Linked DNA regions of Homo sapiens: region 2 is linked to region 1. Evidence: fine-mapped expression QTL. A gene starts in region 1. The other region holds a variant in brackets. All regions are shown on one strand. Distances are from middle to middle.

Region 1 (9,709 bases):
ACAAAAAATTAGCTGGGCGTGGTGGTACATGCCTGTGATCCCAGCTACTTGGGAGGCTGAGGCAGGAGAATCGCTTGAACCCGGGAGGTGGAGGTGGCAGTGAGCTGAGATTGCGCCACTGCACTCCAGCCTGGGTGACAAGATGAGACCCCGTCTCAAAAAAAAAAAAAAAAAAAAAAAAGAAAGAAACATACAGAGCAGCGGGAAATGAAGCACCTACTACAAGCCAGATGTTCAACTAGTTTGTGTGATCTTCACCATAAGAGCAAATAGCTACCAGGTCTTCAAGCTTTCTAGATATCTTTTTGGAGAGATTACCATATCTACAGAAAAGTGGCAGATAGGTGAAAGACATGGAAACAGAAACAGGTAAGCCACAGCTGAGTGGGCAAACCCTCCTGGCAGTCAGAGAACAGGTGCCAATTAGGGATGCAGAAACAGCAGATTATAAAGACCAGAATGCTTACTTCCCCTTCCAGTCCTGTAGTGAATCCCCCATTCTGATTCTTTGCTCAAACCTCCTGACTTTCTGGGTAAGCTGGTGCTGTTCTAGTCTAACTCGTTACTGTGGGTCTCTGAGTTTAGTTAATGCCAACCAGCATCCTCCAGCCAGGAGTTCACAAAGGAGGTGAACTCCTCAGCTCTCTCAGCCATGAGGGTAGAAGGCCAGTCCCAGAGGCAGGATCCAGCCCAAGCGCCCAGTCTTCCTGGAGTCCTGCAGAGCTCTGCTGTCCTTTCGTGGCATCAGCGTTGTACTGAGAACAGCTGTGGTTCACCCCAAGTCACAAGGTGGGCACCCACAGAAGTGTGGCTAGGCCTTGTTCTGTCAGGCAGCACAGAAGGGGTATGGGAAGAGCTCAGCTTCTCCTTTTGCTTCTATTTCTGCTCCTTGACCCAACCACACCCTCTCACTCTTGATACGCAAAATGGGACACAGGGGTTCCCACTGTTCCCTTGCTGTGCACCATAAGGCTCAGGCCACATGAAGGAGTCCTTAAGTGTAATGCACAGCTGGAAGTCACTGTTCCTTCCATGGGTAAAACTGGAGGCCGAATCGGCCGGGCAGGGTGGCTCACACCTGTAATCCCAGCACTTTGGGAGCCCAAGGTGGGAGGATCACGAGGTCAGGAGATCGAGACCATCCTGGCTAACATGGTGAAACCTTGTCTCTACTAAAATACAAAAAAAAAATAGCCAGGCGTGATGGCGAGCGCCTGTAGTCCCAGCTACTCGGGAGGCTGAGGCAGGAGAATGGCGGGAACCTGGAAGGCGGAACGTGCAGTGAGCTGAGATAGCGCCACTGCACTCCAGCCTGGGTGACAGAGTGAGGCTCCGTCTCAAAAAAAAAAAAAAAAACAAAAAACTGGAGGCCGAACCTAATGGACTCATCTGGTTCTTTCATTCTGGAAGGCTTCCAAGCCCTTCCACACCAGCCCCTTTCCTCTCTGCAGTAGAGGAAGTGGAGCCGGAGAATAAACAACTCCTGGAAGGCCACCATCTCTTGACGCTGCAGATCTTCATTTTCTTTGGAGAAAATGTATACAAAAAGCTTGTCTTATAAGATTCTGTGGTTTCAGCTCTTCTATTGCACTGGGCCATGAAGTTTTTTAAAAATCTGAATGCAAACACATCAGTAAGAGTGTTAGCTCTGTTGCTGCAGTGTGACCAGGAACCAGGCTCAGTGGCCACTGGAACCCTTCGACTCTGTCATGCATCTATGCGCTCCTCCGGTTTATGGGGGCTAAACTGCTATGGATACCAGCATTTTTGTTTTTCATTGAGATAATTTATCCAAACTTGGAAGTGACGTCAAAAGGGAAAAAAAAGGTTGCATGCTTTTTTCCCTGCTAACGCAAGTTCAGTGTTTTACAACCCCAACAATCACTTGACTTTCTAGGAGAAATAACTAAACTATTTACCACTGATTGTGGGTCACGCATTTTACAATCTGCAAAGCTAATTCTCCTTTCCATCAAGAAGAAAAGACAATCCCAAAGGCTGTGGTTTCAATGCACACAGGATATTCACCAATCTTATTATCTAATCTGGCAATCTTCTCTCAGCATTCCTGTTACCCACTCACTAAGAAAATCCTAGTTTTGTGTATTCTCTTTTGAACTGACATTCCTATCCTGCTGTATACTGCATTAATGACTGAAATATAACCTGACAAGAGCTATTTACATGAGAATTATACTTCTAACATTTTGAAAATTATACATTGATGGGTTGTAAAAATGTTTTCCAAAATCAACAGAAATACATGTTTAATACACAAAATTCAGAAAATATAAACAAGCATAAAAATACAAAAATAAAAATTTACAATCCTCTTACACAGCTCCAAGCACCATCACTATTTTTTGGTGCCTGCTGGGTCAATTGTTTTTCTAGATATAAACTCTTCTTTTTACATAAAAGGGGATAACAGTATACAAGCTGCTCCCCGGCCTGCTTCTCTTCTCTCAGCAACAGCTAATCCTCCTCTGCAACACGGTTGCAGGGACTCCACCATTTACCTACCCGGTGTCCTACCAGGCTTTTGCCCAGTTCCTCGTTATCAGAAGACATTGTGTATTGAACATCTCTGAGGCCACCTAGAGAACCTGTGCTCTTTGTATGGAAACTGGATGCTCAGGAAGAACTTCCTTAACAACCACAGCCTCCATGACGGCCAATCTGAAAGTGAGGCACAGAAGTGTTCAAGCTCAGTGGGGAGCTGTGGCCATCTCATATTCCCTCAATCACTCACACTTCCTGCACCATTGCTCTTTCCTCTCACAACCTTCCTGAAAAGTTGTATGTAAATAAAAATCAAAATACGGGAGTGAGGTAAGCAGAAGCTGGATAGTTACAGATTTCACACAGAGGGTAAACTGAAACAGGAGTCAGAAGCAGCCGCCTCGCGCCAGTCTTTCAGAGAAGAGTCACTTACAGCAGAATCTACACAGGCTGGGGAGCCCCTGGCTCCCCTCCCTACTGTCCACACCCAACCCCAACCTAGAGCAGCTGGCTATAGGGCCCAGAGCCCAGGCGGGTCCCACCTCCTGCTGACCTGACCCAGCGCCCGCTCTCTCCCCCGCACACTTTGGTGACCTTACCCAGCGTCCCTCCCCGCTCCTACAGGTTCTGACTGACCCAGCGTCCCTCCGCCTCCCACACCATGTTGAGCTGCACCTTGTCCCCTTCCGCCCCAGCTAACTCGGTGACCAGTGGAGGCCACACCCACGTGACACCTGCTGTCCTTGACAGCAGCTCCGACGGCACCTCTGTGGCTCTGCAGGAGCCGCCTCCCCGCCTCGTGGGCACACAGGTGAGCTGACCGTACTTGCCCAGCCGGTCTGAGGGAAGCGAGGTCAGGGGCGACGGCGCCGCCTCCGCCTCCGCCTGTCCCCTCCCTCCGTCCGGCATCCGCGCCGCTCAAGGACTCCAAAGTCAGCGTCGCGGTGAGGAGCCCCCCACGCCCAACCCGCGCAGGCAGGACCCCGGGCTGCGGGGCTCGAAAGTCCCCCACAAGCTGCTGTCCGGGAACCGCACGGCCCGGGGTGCCGCACGCCCACCGGAAGGCAGGGCTGGGACCGCGGACGCCAGGAGCCACCCCGGCCCCTCACCCGGGCTCCCCCTCACGTGGGCTCCCGCGCGCCCATCTGGGTTCCCCCTCAGCTGAGTTCCCGGCCCCTCACCTGGGATCCCCGGTCCCCTCACCCGGGCTTCCCAGCCCCCTCGCCTGGGCTCCACGCGCGCTCACCTGGGCTGCCCCTCACCTGGGTTCCCGGCCCCTAACCCGGGCACCCCGCGCGCTCACCTGGGCTGCCCCTCACCTGGGTTCCCGGCCCTCACCCGGGCTCCCTGAGCGCTCACCTGGGCTGCCACTCAGCCGGGCTCCCTGCGCTTGGCGCCGCCCCGCCCCTGCAGGACTCCCGGCAGTCACTGACCTCATTGCCGCCCAGTCACGACTGGCCGGCCTCAAACACCGCCCGCGCACGCGCGTTCGCACGCGCGTGCGCACGCGTTCTGCCCCCCTGGGGGCGTCGCTACGAGAGGCCCCGCCTAGGCGCTACGACGGCGGCGGGCGCGGGAGGGGCGGGGCGGCGGGCGCGGGAGGGGCGCGGCGGGGGGCGGGGCGCGGCGCGGGGGGCGGGGCGCGGCGGGGGGCGGGGCGCGGCGGGGGGCGGGGCGCGGCGGGGGGCGGGGCGCGGCGGGGGGCGGGGCGCGGCGGGGGGCGGGGCGCGGCGGGGGGCGGGGCGCGGCGGGGGGCGGGGCGCGGCGGGGGGCGGGGCGCGGCGGGGGGCGGGGCGCGGCGGGGGGCGGGGCGCGGCGGGGGGCGGGGCGCGGCGGGGGGCGGGGCGCGGCGCGGCGGGCGCTGTGGGGCGGCGGGGTGGACGCGCTGAACCACGGCCGGCGGGAGGGGCGGGGCCGGGCTGAACCATGGCGGGCGGCGGCATGGGGGCGGTGGGGCTCCGCGGGCAGCCTGGTTGCGCTGCACCCGGACGGGGCCGAGGGGACCTGAAAGCTGCGGCAGAGCCTGACCGCGCCGTTCTCCAGAAGAGCCCCGGCCGCGGCTGAGTCGCGCTCCGGGTGTGGACGGAGCCGGAGCCTCCCCGGGGCTCGGTGAGGACACAGGGCCCAAGCCCCGGACCTTCAAGTCTTGACCGAGCGCATCCCCGGCCCTTCTGCGCCCACACCTGAGTTTTTGTCTGTAGGAGTTTCCGCAGTTTGCTAAGGTTGTTATTCGAGTTACTTATGTTTCTTCTCTCTAAGGTTGTTATTCGAGTTACTTATGTTTCTTCTGTCTAATGTGTTTTGTTCCCTCTTTAGAATCGACATCTAGAGGAGTACTCACCACTTAATTGATGATCAATACACGTTCCTTGAAAGAACCGATAGCATGCGATCGATACAGAGCATCTGCACTGGGATTGTCCGCCCCGCCTGTCAGGGAGGCCTCGGGGGCTAATGGAGCTGAGGGTATAGTCGGCCTTGGACCCTCGCTTTTTTCCTTTCCTGTACTATGAAGATAACTGCCTTATCTCCCCCTCAGGACTGTTTTGGGGATTAAATAGGACGTTTAAATTACCAACGCTCTTTGAAATAAACATTTCAAAATTATTATAACCCTTTAGTACATGTGGGAAAACGTTGACATTCATGTTCAAGTTTATTTTTCTGCTGGCTCATTTAGGTTTGTTGAAGCCTTGAGTCCCTAGGATTGTCTAAGAACATGGGTAAATGTGTGTGGAGGCCTCCCTGGAGGCCAGAGAACTGCCAGCAGCCTTCATGATGTTAGGGGAACAGGAACCTAGGAGAGCCAGGGTGACATCGTTTTAAAATCAACAACCCATCTTGGCGGGCGCGGTGGCTCAAGCCTGTAATCCCAGCAGTTTGGGAGAAAAAAATTAGCCGGGTGTGGTGGTGGGCACCTGTAATCTCAGCTACTCAGGAGGCTGAAGCAGAATTGCTTGAACCCAGGAGGCAGAGGTTGCAGTGAGCTGAGATCACGCCATGGCACTCTAGCCTGGGCAACAAGAATGAAACTCTGTCTCAAAAAAATAAAAATAAAATAAAATAAACTCCATCTTAAAACCAGTGAAACCACCATTGCAAAATTATAACTGAGACAGTGAGAGATCTGACCTAACCAACTCCATCCTACTTTTAACCTCCAAACTGTCCTTGTTCATTCCTGGGTGTAGGCCAAACTAACTTTGGAAGAAACTTAGTTTATGGTTTCCCGAAACAAATCCTTTTCTTGTCTGGAGACTAGACTGCCTTTGTAGGACTAACAAATTAGCCACAAGATTAGAAATTATGGTTTAGAATTCATGCAGCTGGAGATTACAAGATTCTGACCCTCCCTAAATTGCTCCTGGGGATAACATCACTATTGAAAAACCTAACAACAGTGCTTGAGATATTTTGCAGACCTTGCACTTGCTGAATTAGCTGGGACCATCCAGATGGATAAACTGGCTCATCTGATCTTGTGGCCCGCACTCAGCAACCGGCTCAGGCCAAGAGGACAGCTTTGATCCATACGATTTCATCTCTGATCTGACCCCTCAGTGCTCCCAGCTTACTGGCCCCCTACCTACCAAATTATCCTTAAAAACTCTGAACTCCAGGGCTGGGCACGGTGGCTCACACCTGTAATCCCAGGACTCTGGGAGGCCGAGGCAGGCGGATCACTTGAGGTCAGAAGTTCAAGACCAGCCTGGCCAACATGGCAAAACCCCGTCTCTACTAAAAATACAAAAATTAGCCAGGCGTGGTGGTGCACGCCTGTAATGCCAACTACTTGGGAGCCTGAGGCAGGAGAATTGCTTGAACCCTGAAGGCGGAGGTTGCAGTGTGCTGAAATCGCACCACTGCACTCCAGCCTGGGCAACAGAGCAAGACTCCATCTCAAAAACAACAGCAAAAACTCTGAACTCCGAATTCTTGGGGAAATTGATTTGAGTAATAATAAAACTCTGGTCTCCCGCACAGCCAGCTCTGTGTGGATTATTCTTTCTCTATGCAGTTCACCTGTTTGGATAAATCAGCTCTGTGTAGGCAACATGAACCTGATTGGCAGTTACAGTAGCCTGTAATCCCAGCTACGTGGGAGGCTGAGGCAGGAGAATTGCCTGAACCTGGGAGGCGGAGGTTGCAGTGAGCCGAGATCATGCCACTGCACTCCAGCCTGGGCAACAGAGCAAGACTCCATCTCAAAAAAAAAAAAAAAAAAAAAAAAAGATGGCTATAGTCATGCTTAGATGTAGTTACGCACTGAAATGCCAAGGATAACGTTATTTACATCCACCAAGTACTAGATCTTGTCACACTGCCAGCCCACCTGCACTTACACGTAGCTTGGCTTTTACATTGATACAAGATGCCTTTGAAACAAAGATGGCACATTCTTCTTCCTGCTTTCCGCGGGCTCCCCACTCTGTATCAGAGCAGCTGTCTCTCACTGCACTCTGCGACTGCCTTGAGTTCCTCCCTGCGCAAGATCCGAGAACTCTCTCTTAGGGTCTGGACTGGACCCCTTTCTCCATCAGCACTGGGTTCCTTAGATTCCTACTAACAGCATGCTGAGGCCTGTCTTAACAAAGAATGAAGTGAGGCTTAGAAAGATGGAACCATAACTTGCTCAGTCACGTGGCTAGTAAGCTCTTCAGCTTGAATTTAAACATTCCAGGACTGTGTCTTTCCACTCGGCCATCTTTAAAGCAGAGTGATAAAATAGTTTTGTTTTCTAAAAAACCATCACAGGCATAACTGATCACAGGTATAACCAGTATCCATGCGGGGTGTGGAACACTGAATGAAACCCGGGCGGATTCCCAGCTTGCTCCGTCTCAGCTTGGGCACTGCTGTTTACAGCCTGTGTACTCCCCTCCCGCCCTGCCACCCACAAGTGTCTCACCTCCTTCCTCGACAGATCGAATGACACAACAAACATTTATCTTGGGTGCACAGCGTGTCAGGCGTCAGGCTAAGCACTTTGATAAACTGGTTCTTTCAAACATCACAGGTGTCTGACGCAGGCACCATTATCCACGTCATAGAAAAAAAACAGTGTTCAGTGAGCCTGAGGTTAGCAATGTGTGCACCTCCACACACTGCTAAATGACAAAGCTGAATTTTGAAGTACGATGCCATGAGGTGTCTGGAGTAGACAACCAAAATGACTTAATTGAGGTGTCAGGGGACTGTCTTACTTTCTGGTCACACAAGCAATATACGCTCATTGTGAGGTTTGGTTGTTCCATTACAAAAAAGACTGTTTTAAAAGCCATTAGCGGAGGGATGGGAGGAGTTCTCTTCTGCCTGTTTCTTCCTCCTAAACAGCAAAATGACGGTGTCCTCAAAGGGATGTATAATGAGCGAGAGGCGAAAAAGAACGTCTGTGATTTTAAATCCAGTGTCCTTCACCAGTGAGCAATAGTAGTTCTGTGAGTGGGAGAGCAGGACCGCGGTGCTTGCAAACAACACTTTAAAACACTGGAACCCAAGTTCAGGATCTGCTGACAGCACATCTGCAGGAAGCATGAGGGTCTCTGGACTCCCGCAGATCAGCTGCTCAGCTTCTCAGCCTCAATGTGGCAAAGACTCTACCTGACCTAACTCCAGGCAGGGTCCTCGAAGCCCTCAAGGCTCTGACCTGGACCCCTGTCCCCTTTCGTCCAAAAGAATCCTGCTGGGTCAATGCAGTGACAGTTCCCCGCCCCTGATATCATACTCCTCATCCCTCACCCTCGGTATCTTATCACCTGGCCTGCCTGTGGCACGAATCCTACCAAGTGGTTCTAGCAAGAACCCCCCTGGCCTGATGTAGCCTCTTCATAGTTTTCCGTCCGTTCTCACCCTCTCCGTGGCTGTACATTCCCGTTTTTCTTCTTACACTCAGAGTTGAGCCTAGTCCCACTGCAGTGGCCCCTGCACCTATCGCGATTCCTTTGAGACTGTAAAACAAAAATAAAATTCTAGTCCCCCGCCAACCCCGTTAGCCACGAGCTTTCCAAAGTAAACCTTAGAGACTAGTTCAGACCGTGATGGGAAGTGGGGGTGGGACAGGCTCCTTATACCCGCCTTCCGTTGAAATCCAGGCACAGCTGACCTGCATTAACGTCAAAGCAGAGATCTTAAGGTTGACAAAACAGACTCTGTAGCAATAAGATACTACATTCCAACCTGACTCTAGTATAGCATCACATGATAGAGAGCAGGCCCTGGAAGAAATCAAGCATTTTACCCCAGAATATATTTCTTTGACATATTTTGAAGGGGCCCCACACGGCTGTCTCTTGAGGGGAAAATCCACATCCTGCCAGAATCCCCTTCCCTTTCCAGGTCTTTTCCCTGATCTAGGAGAGATTTAACTAAGAGTCTGGCACCTCTTTTAGGTCCAATAAGAGCTCTGAAGATAAAAAACCTTGGTCTCCACAACCTTTATCGTAACCCAGACAATCCTTTCTATTCATTCCAGGTCTCTACAATAATAACTTAACTCTTTCAATTAATTGCCCATCAGAAAATCGTTGAATCCATCTGTGACCTGGACACCTTCCACCTGCATCCATGGAGTTGTGTCACCTTTCTGGACCAAACCACTGGACACCTTACATGTATCGATTGGCAACATGTACACCTCCACACACTGCTAAATGACAAAGCCGAATTTTGAAATACGATACTGTGAGGTGTTTGGAGAAGAGAACTGAAATGACGTCATGGAGGTGGCAGGGGATCGTCTTGCCCTTTTCTTATTTTCTGCCTGTAACTTCTGTCCCCCTAAAATGCATAAAATCCAGCTAGAACCCAACCACCTTATGCAGCAGTTCTTAGGACCTCATGGGGCTGTGTCATCAATCAAAGTCCTCATATTTGGCTCAGAATAAATCTCATCAACTAATTTACAAATTTGACTCTTTGTGTTGACAAGTCTGTCTTACCGTTCTTTAATAAGGGCCGTGTATAATGTTTTCTTTAGCAAGTGTGGCAAAATTAAACCTTAGAAATAAAGAGAAAAAGAACTCATTATAGAAAACTGTCTTTCTGCTGATGCGGGCATTCACTGTGTCCATTTCTTTTTCCAAAAAGTGTATCTTTCTTAAAAACTGAAAAATATTGAGCCACAAAACACAGTGCCGATGGCTTGCATGCGGGACACTCGGGATATCGTACTAAAGGGCTCTGATGCTGTCTTGGTGATCTCTATGCT
Region 2 (9,709 bases), 19 kb after region 1:
TGTGTCAGCCTTCCTGACAGGTGCTCAAGGACATCCGCTGTGTGCCTAGGTGCAGCTGTGTCACTGGGATGGACACAGGAAGCAATGTGGGGTCTTTGCTGCCAGTGAGCTCCCGGTCTAGGAGAAGAGAGAGGAAGCATCTTTATCTGTGTTATCCCAGGTACGCGTGCCAATTATATGTCTGTATCCTTATCTGTGTCTACATATACACCTACATCTACATCTACAGTCATATCAATATCTATACCCATACCCATATCTCTATATTTCTACATCTATACCCATATCACAGCTGTGTCTATATCTGTTAAGTCATTCTTGCATTGCTATAAAGAAATACCTGAGACTGGGTCATTTACAAAGAAAAGAGGTGGAATTGGCTAACGGTTCTGCAGGCTGCGCAAACATCGTACCAGCATCTGCTCCGCTTCTGGGGAGGCCTCTGGGAGCTTTTGCTCATGGCGGAAGGTGAAGCAGGAGCAGGTGTGTCACATGGACAGAGCTGAAGTCAGAGAGAGAGAGAGTGGGTTGGGGGAGCTGCCACACACTTAAACACCCAGACCTCCTGAGAACTCACTCACCATTGTGAGGACAGCACAAAGCCACGAGGGATCTTCACCCACGAACTAAACCCCTCCCGCCAGACCCCATCTCCAACACTGGAGATTACAACTCAACATGAGACTTGGGTGGGGACAAATATCTAAACTATATTACTATATCTATATCTATATACATCTATGTCCATAGCTACATCTATGTCCACATCTGTATCTGTAATCTGTGTGTTCAGATAGATACACATGTCTTTTTACAAAGAAAATAAAGCCAGGTTGCAGTGGCTCACACTGGTAATCCCAGCACTTTGGGAGGCTGAGGCAGGTGGATCACCTGAGGTCAGGAGTTCGAGTCCAGCCTGGCCAACATGGTGAAACCCTGTCTCTATTAAAAATACAAAAAAAAAAATAGCTGGGCATGGTGGCGGGTGCCTGTACTCCCAGCTACTCAGGAGGCTGAGGCAGGAGAATCGCTTGAACCCAGCAGGCAGAGGCTGCAGTGAGCTGAGATCATGCCACTCCACTCCAGCCTGGGCGACAGAGTGAGACTCCCTCTCAAAAATAAATAAATGAAAAGAAAATAAGCTCAGAGAAATCAGGTGGTGCCACCATCAATAAGCATCAGAACTGGAATGCAAACGTGGGCTTTGGTGCCTTCAAAGTCAGAACTGTGTTCACCCCTCTCGCTTTAGGGTCTGTATCAGTTTGTTAGGGCTGCCATAACAAAGTGCCACAAACAATAGGACGGTCTTCTCTCCCAAGCCAGAAGTCGGAGATCCCGGTGTCCGCAGGGTTGAGCTCCCCTGAAGGCTCCAGGGGAGGGTCTGTCCCAGCTGGGCCTGGATCTGGCCTCCGGTGGCCCCTCGGCTGGGTGGCCCCTGGGCTGAGTGGCTCCTCGGCTCGGTGGTGGAGCTCCAGTCCTCACGTGGTGTCCTTCCTCTGTGTGTGTCTCTCTGTGTCCCAGTTTCCCCTTTTTATAAGAACACTGACTGTATTCAATTAGGATCCTCCCTCATGACCTTATCTGAATTTGATTTAATTTCATTCCCTCTTTGGAAATAGACAAGACCCTATTTCCAAATAAAGTCACATTTCCAGGTATGGGGGGTGGTTAGGTCTCCAACATACCTTTTTTTTTTGAATGGGGTATAATTCAACTCATAACGGTGTCTTTCACCAAAACCCAGTGATCCTACTTAATCCACATCCCATCTCTTAATGCCTAGTCCCATCGACTTGTCACTAGATGATGCTGAGAACAAAGGTTTTGTATCTGGGATAAAAGCTTTTTCATCATCATAGAAATTTGGCAAACTTCAGAAGCACCATTACTGTGTTTCAATTTTGTCAAGCCTTTTAACAGCTGTACCATATCCTTGGACTACTTCTATTTTGTAGATAAACGCACGGATACTTGTTTATGTGTACACGTGGTGCTCACACCGAATGTTAGAAGTATGCAATGTGCTTTCTTACACGTGTGGTCATTTATGGCAAACAGCTCTGGGAGGAAAGCAAGGCAGGAAGCAGCTTGTGCATCTGCAGAGGGCACGATGGTGTCTGCTGGGCTGGGTGACTCACCAGTCACAAGCTGGGGTGGGTGGGGCCAGAGAGCCACAGTGCAGAGCTGCTGGACCTCAGGCCCTCACAGCTGAATCAGGGTTCACTTTTTAGGGCTTATTGTTGGGCACAGTCCAGAGACAGCCAGAAATCCCCACATATTAAAGCAGAAAGCACCTTCTAGCCGAGCCACGTTGGACGTGGGACCCATCACTTGTCTTATTTCCACATCTTATAACTTGGAGGAACACAGTTATTGCAATCTTTGCACTGTCTGCCTTTCCTCCATATGTGCTCTGTAGTGTTATTTTCTTGACATTTCTCTTCCTTTGGGGTGGAAAAAGAGGAAAAAGGTCACGGTGGGTGGAAACAAAATGAGAAGAGAAAGTGCATGGGCAGAATTTCAGTGAGGATGTTGTCACTTCAGAAACCCACACCTCCAACTTGTGGTCTGACGAGGTGATCAAACTCAGGACACAAGACGGCGCTCCTCGCCCCACCGCAGCTAACGTCAGTCACGTTACAGGGCAGGTAGGATGGAAAGCGCGTGGCCTATGCTGCGGTCCAGCTTAGATTCTAGCAGCGCGGCTTTCATATCCTGCTCAGGCAAGCCTTGGTCACTCACTGGGCCTCTGATTCTGTGACAAATCCATTGGGCAGACACCCCGAGAGAGCAAGAGGTGACTGAGTCATGGCCTGGCTGTGAGGGACAGCCCACAGTCTGGAGATAGCAAGCCGCCAATGCTGCAGTCACCCTTATAAAACATTTGGAATTACGGAAGCTGAGCAGAGCAGGTTTTGCTTGTTTACTTTGTTTCTGGTTTGCAGAGAGCATTAGGTTGGAGGAAGTTTTTTTTTCTTGTTCTTACATCACAAAATGTAAACTATCAGAGACTTAAAGCTTAAGCATTTTTGTGCATCCAGACAAACCACGACAAAACAAAACAGCCAGCCACAGCCTACACGTTTGGGCCAGGGTCGTGGTTCTCTCACGGAATGCTGTTCAGAAGCGAAAAGACACCAACATTGACAATTCAGGAGAAGGAGAATTTCAGACACCGTATTCAGTTCTCTTTGTGGCTGAGTCTCTGCAATACGCTGTCTTCCATGTAAGGACTAGAATCAAAGGCTGAGCTGTCTCCATCGCTCCCTGCCCATTGAGAGCCTATGGTCATATGGGGAAACTACCTTTTCATCATGGAAAAGAAGAACTGGTGAGCTTCCTTTGCTGACTCATTAAGCCATTCATCTAGCATTCACCAAGTGCTACATTCATCCAGCGTTCACCAAGTGCTACCGGAGTGCCAGGCTCAGGGCCACATAGAGCTGTTTAGCTGTTCTTGTGACTTTTTTTCCGCTTTTTCTTTTTTTTTTTTTTTTTGAGACGGAGTTTTGCTCTCATCGCCCAGGCTGGAGTGCAATGGTGTGATCTCGGCTCACTGCAACCTCTGCCTCCCGGGGTGAAGCAATTCTTGTACCTCAGCCTCCCGAGTAGCTGGGATTACAGGTGTGTGCCATCATGCCTGGCTGATTTTTGTATTTTTAGTAGAAACGGGGTTTCCTCATGTTGGCCAGGCTGTCTCAAACTCCTGACCTCAGGTGATCCACCAGCCTCGGCCTCCAAAAGTGCTGGGATTACAGGTGTGAGCCACCACGCCCGGCCAATTTTTTTTTTCTCCTAACATCTCAGGGGAACGTTTTTATCCTCGTGCAGTTTGCCCATCACGAGCCGGGTCCCGTGTTGATGCCAAGGTCATAGCAAGTGTCATGCGGCACGCCATTGGGTACTCGAAGTGTTTAGGTGCCTGCCCTCCCCTCGGATCCGGCCCCATCCAGGGGCCCTGCTCCCATTTCCTGCCCTGCACCTTCCTCCAGGAAGTCCCCCTCCCGGCCACGCCAGCCCGTTTCCAGACCTCACCCTTGACCTTCACCCCTTATTTGTGCACGTGCTGCCATCCTTCGCGGTGTCACGTCTCACCGTCACATTCCCAGCCGGGATAGTTCCTGCATATCACGGAAGACCTGCCTAGGGAGCTGCCTTCCCGAGTTTTCATCTTCTCTCGTCCTCAAGGAGCCTCCCGCCAGGCACGCGGCTCCTTCCGCTGGCTCTCCCCTCTCTCTTCTGTCACTAGAAGGGCCTTGACCCTATCAGCGTCGAGCCTTTGTCGTGATGACGCATTTGTCTTCTCTCTGAGTGGCTCTGTACCGCGTTCTCTTAGCTAATCTGTGTTTCTCAAAGTTCCCTTCCCTGAATGGTTCCAACGTCCTGTTGGAGGAAAGAGAGATTTGCAGAAATTTGGAAGGTGGAAATGAAGGAGCAGCTATTTTCTACAGGACGATCATCTGTGTTTATTCACACCGTGAGGCTCAAAGAGGTTGCTTCCCCCCTACCAGCGGAAAAGGGATGCTGCACGAAGGAATTTTAGGCAGTGACACTGTAATGGTGGGTACGTGTCATTCTACATGTGCCCAAACCAGAGAACGGCCAACGCCGTGACTGGTCCGTGTGTTACAGTTGATGAACCTGCATTGGAGTATCGGAGTCGCCAGTGCGGGCACAGACATCTGCGGAAACATCAAGCCCCGCTCATCCCCTCCTAGTGGGAAGCCCCCCCTACATTCATCAACGCCACAGGTTTCTTTATGGGAGAGTTTTAAAGGTTGTAGTTTTAGGCTGCCTATTTGTTCAGAGCAGAGAAAGAGAATAAGCTCTGAAAATGGCAAAGGCATAGCAGGAGGAGATTGGAACCATGGTGGAGATCAGCCCCCAGGCCAGGACTGCACAAGCCGTCCCTCAGTGGGAGGGACCTTCCTGCTCGTGGTGGTCACTTGCCTCATAGTGAGCACTCATTCCCCCGCCGGGGGCGGCTGGCACCCATCATTGCAGATCTGTGGGTGCTCCTATCCCTCCAGAGGACACTAAAGAGCAGGGGAGATGCACTTTCCTTCCAGTCCAAACCAGCCACCTGCCCGAAGGAAGAAGGAGAACCAGGGCTGCATCCAAGGAAAACACTTT[C/A]ATTTCTCAAAGGAAAACATTAGGAACCTGAGGGAAGCTATTGCCAGGTGTGTAACTGACCCAGGATCTTCATCTAGAGCAGGGCTGGCAAAACAAGGCCCTCAGGCCAAATCAGGTCCACCATCCATTTATTTTGTATTCTCTGTAAGCTAACCATGAATTTTATTTTTTTTTAATGGTTCAAAAATGTAGAAGGAGAATGATGTTTTGTGACATGTAAAAATGATATGCTGTTCACGTTTTCAAGTCCATCAAAATAAGATAAACTGAACAGCACCAGGCTCATGGGTTTAGTATTGTCTGCAGCTGTTTTACGTGACAGCAGGAGAAAAGGTCCCACAGAGACCACATGGCTCACAAAGCCTAAAAGGTTAACTTTCTGGCTCATTACTGGAAAAGTTTGCTGATCCCTGACTATTTTTATTTTATTTTATTTTATTTTATTTTATTTTATTATTTTTGAGACAGGATCTCACTCTGTCACCCAGGCTGGAGTGCACTGGTGCAACCTCGGCTCACTGCAGCCCTGACGTCCCAGGCTCAAGCGATCCTCCTATCTCAGCCTCCCAAGTACCTGGGACTGGGACAGCAGGAGTGCAACACCCACACCAACACCAGACCACAGCCTTGACCCCTGAGTTTAGAGCATGCAAGAAATTCCTACAAATCAATTAGAAAAAACAAGCGATTTAAATAGAGAAATGGGCAAAAGACCTGAACAAGCACTGTACCAAAGAAAAGATCAAAATGGCTACTCAACGGATGCTCCCCTGTGTTATTCATCAGTGGCTGCTGCTTACAACCACAGTGAGATATCACTACATAGCCGCCAGGACAGCAAAGTCAGGAAAGAGGAGCAGGAATCAGTGTGGATACAGAGAAACTGAACTCAGACACTGTTGGTGGGAACTGAACTCACACACTGCTGAGGAGAACTGAACTCACTCACACACCATGGGGGGACTGAACTCACTCACACAGCACTGAGGGGACTGAACTCACACACCACGGCGGGGCCTGAACTCACTCACACACTACTGTGTGGAAACTGAACTCACTTGCGCACCCCTGGGGGGAAGTAACATTTTTGCATTGACCCTGGACCAATAACCACTGAAACTGAACTGAAGCTTCCATGGCGACACTGTGATTCCCCACGACCAGCAGAAATGCAAACATATTGCACACAAGGTCATGCACAAGAATGTTGACAGGATCACTGTTTGTGTGTTTATCTGAACCTTCACCTGCTCATGACAGATAAAGGTTATCATGTGAACGTGGGGAAGACATCGCCAAACACCCAGGGGAGGTTTCCCTGGGAGCAGACACCTCCTCCCCTCGCCGTCCTCTTTTACCTCCCGTTGCCGTCCTCTTTGAAATGCCCTGCAGCACGGTCAAGGGACTCTGCTGCTCTGCCAGTCCACTGTGTAGGTCTTCCTGCTTCTCCACTTTATTTCCACCAAATTATAAACTCTTGGAAACAAAGATTCTGCCATCACGCATTTCTTTATCACTCACAGCATCTGGATGTCCTCCACAACAGCAAGTGGCACCTGTCATATTTTGTTTTGTGTTTTTTGTTGTTGTTGTTTTGTTTTTTTTTGAGACGGAGTCTCGCTTTCTTGCCCAGGCTGGAGTGCAGTGGTGTGATCTCTGCTCATTGCAAGCTCCGCCTCTCGGGTTCAAGCGATTCTCCTGCCTCAGCCTCCCTAGTAGCTGGGACTACAGCTGCGTGCCACCACGCCTGGCTAATTTTTTGAATTTTTAGTAGAGACGGGGTTTCACAGTGTTAGACAGGATGGTCTTGATCTCCTGACCTCGTGATCCACCCGCCTCGGCCTCCCGAAAGTGCTGGGATTACAGGCATGAGCCAACGCGCCTGGCCACCTGTCACGTTTTACAGCTAAGGAAGCTGAGGTCACATGTCCAAGGAGTCAAGCATGGGACGTCTCTGTCCTTACCCAACGTGGGTCTCACCACCACTCCTTATTGACTCCACTCTGATCAGACTGTGCCTCTGATAACTCCCAGGACAGGCTCAGCCTTTTCAAGCTTCTGGGCCTTCACATTTGCTTTTGCCTCTCTACCTGGGTCTTTATTTCTTCTATTGTCCAAGGACCAAGTCCTCCTCATCCTTCAGGTCTCAACTCTGGCTGGGCTCCGAGGAGGAGCTACCACCTGGGACGCCACTACCTGTCGGGCCTGCCTCCCTCTCTTACTCGCTCATGTCCTTGCATTTCACTCATTGAATGATCTTAAACATTCATGATAGAATGATCTATCATGTCATAAAAATGACATGATAATTATTTTTATCTCTTTGTGGACTGTTTATTTTCTGTCCTGCCCTTCCCACCTCACAAGAATGGGAAGCCCCATGGTGGGCTGGGACATCATCTGTCTTATTCACACGTGATGTTAAAAGAGATTGTTTTCTTCCTAACGGTGATGAAGTTACACTGCACAGAGGATCTTCAGGGCAGTGAAGCTACTCTGCATGGCACTGTCATGGTGGATAAGAGTCAGTGTACATCTGTGCAGACCCAGAGGATGAACAACACCTAGAGCGAGCCCTCGTGTAAACCACGGACTCCAGGCAATGAAGACGTGTCCATGTGGGTTCACCAATGGTAACAAATGCACCACACTTGCTGGTGGGGGGTGGCTATGCGTGCAGGGGAGAGGGGACAGGCAGCGAATGGCAGGTGTCTGTACCTTCTGTGCATTTTACTGTGAGCCAAAAACTGCTCTAAAAAAATTGTCTACTTTTAAGTTCTGATGGGTTCTCTGGCTTCAGGGAGTTGCCATTTTGGATCCTGAAGAATAAAGAGATAGGCTCATTTGCATGAGGTAGGCAGAGTCAAGTTGGAGGTTGAACTACGTGCTGGGACTGAGGCCATCAGACTCTGGAGGGAGGAGGGGAGCATAGCTGCTGTCTTGCTGACAGCTTCATGGGGAAGCTGGGGTCTGAGTTAGGATGAGTGTCTTAGTCCATTTGTTTTGCTATCAAGGACTACCTGAAGCTGAGTAATTTATAAAGAAAAGAGGTGTGTTTGGCTCACCTCTCTGCAGCCTTCACAGGGAGCATGGTGCCAGCATCTGCGACTGGTGAGGCCTCCGAAATATTAGAAATTGGCCGGGCGCAGTGGCTCATGCCTGTAATCCTAGCACTTTGGGAGGTTGAGGGGGGCGGATCACCTGAGGTCAGGAGATCGAGACCAGCCTTCCCAACATTGGTGAAACCCCGCCTCTATTAAAAATACAAAAATTAGCTGGGCGTAATGGCAGGCACATGTAATCCCAGCTACTCGGGAGGCTGAGGCAGGAGAATCGCTTGAACCCAGAAGGCAGAGGTTGCAGTGATCCAAGATCACACCACTGCACTCCAGCTTGGGTGACAGAACTAGACTCCGTCTCAAAAAAAAAAAAAAAATGTGAGAAATCATTCTGCTCGTGGCGTCATGGCGGAATGGGAAGCGGAGCAGGCATCACATGCCAAGAGGAAAAAAGCCATAAAGAGGGACAGAGAGAGAGGAAAGGAGCTGCCAGGCTCTTTTTAACAATCAGATCTCGCGAGAGCTAATGAAATGAGACAAATAGAGTGAGGATGGCACCAAGACATTTATGTAGGGGCCACACCAGTGACCAGACACCTCCCACCACAACAATGACCAGACACCTCCCACCACACCAGTGACCACACACCTCCCACCACACCAGTGACCACACACCTCCCACCACACCGGTGACCAGACACCTCCCACCACACCGGTGACCAGACACCTCCTACCACAATGACCAGACACCTCCCACCACACCAGTGACCCAGACACCTCCCATCACACCAGTGACCCAGACGCCTCCCACCACACCAGTGACCAGACACCTCCCACTAGGCCGGCACCAACACTGGCGATCCAATGTCAGCCTGAGGTTTTGGGGGTGTCAAACATCCAAACGATATCACTGGGGTATGTCTGGGGAGGCAGGATGATGGCAGAAGGCCTCGAGACAGGAAGACCTTGCCTTGGGTCCGAAGCCTGTGCACAACCATCAGGAAACTCATCTGTTTCTGCTGGAGTTTAACTTGACTTTGATTGGTTATTAAAAACCATCCTGTAATCCCAGCAGTTTGGGAGGCTGAGGTGGGCAGATCACAAGGTCAGGAGTTCGAGACCAGCCTGGCCAACATGGTGAAACCCGGTCTCTACTAAAAATAGAAAAAATAGCTGGGTGTGGTGGCGGGTGCCTGTAATCCCAGCTACTCGGGAGGCTGAGGCAGGAGAATTGCTTGAACTCAGGAGGTGGATGTTGCAGTGAGCTGAGATTGCACCACTGCACTCCAGCCTGGGTGACAGAGCAAGACTCCGTCTCAGAAAAAAAAAAAAAATCATTGGGCCGGGCATGGTGGCTCACTCCTGTAATCCCATCACTCTGGGAGGCCGAGGCAGGTGGATCACCTAAGGTCAGGAGTTCAAGACTGGCATGGCCAACACAGTGAAAACCTATCTCTACTAAAAATACAAAAATTAGCTGGGCATGGTGGTGGGCGCCTATAGTCCCAGCTCCTCAA

What was found. PIP is the estimated chance that this variant, and not a neighbour inherited with it, causes the effect. A credible set is the group of variants that fine-mapping cannot tell apart.
Region 2: its variant is the best candidate, but not a certain one, in a credible set for the expression of CLN8 in whole blood (TOPMed, PIP 0.85).

Annotation. Positions count from the first base shown.
Region 1 is chr8:1,758,038-1,767,746 of GRCh38, reverse strand. CLN8 (CLN8 transmembrane ER and ERGIC protein) reads right to left here and starts at 3,958. Exons shown (of 3, transcript NM_018941.4): 1 at 3,862-3,958. It overlaps CLN8-AS1 (CLN8 antisense RNA 1), which reads left to right and starts at 3,163. Exons shown (of 2, transcript NR_134303.1): 1 at 3,163-3,313; 2 at 4,819-5,784.
Region 2 is chr8:1,738,745-1,748,453 of GRCh38, reverse strand. It overlaps LOC105377778 (a long non-coding RNA gene), which reads left to right. Exons shown (of 4, transcript XR_007060784.1): 3 at 50-160; 4 at 5,602-5,635. Among named protein-coding and RNA genes, the nearest start is that of CLN8, 20 kb to the left of the region's middle. The variant C/A (reference allele first, on the strand shown) is at 5,134.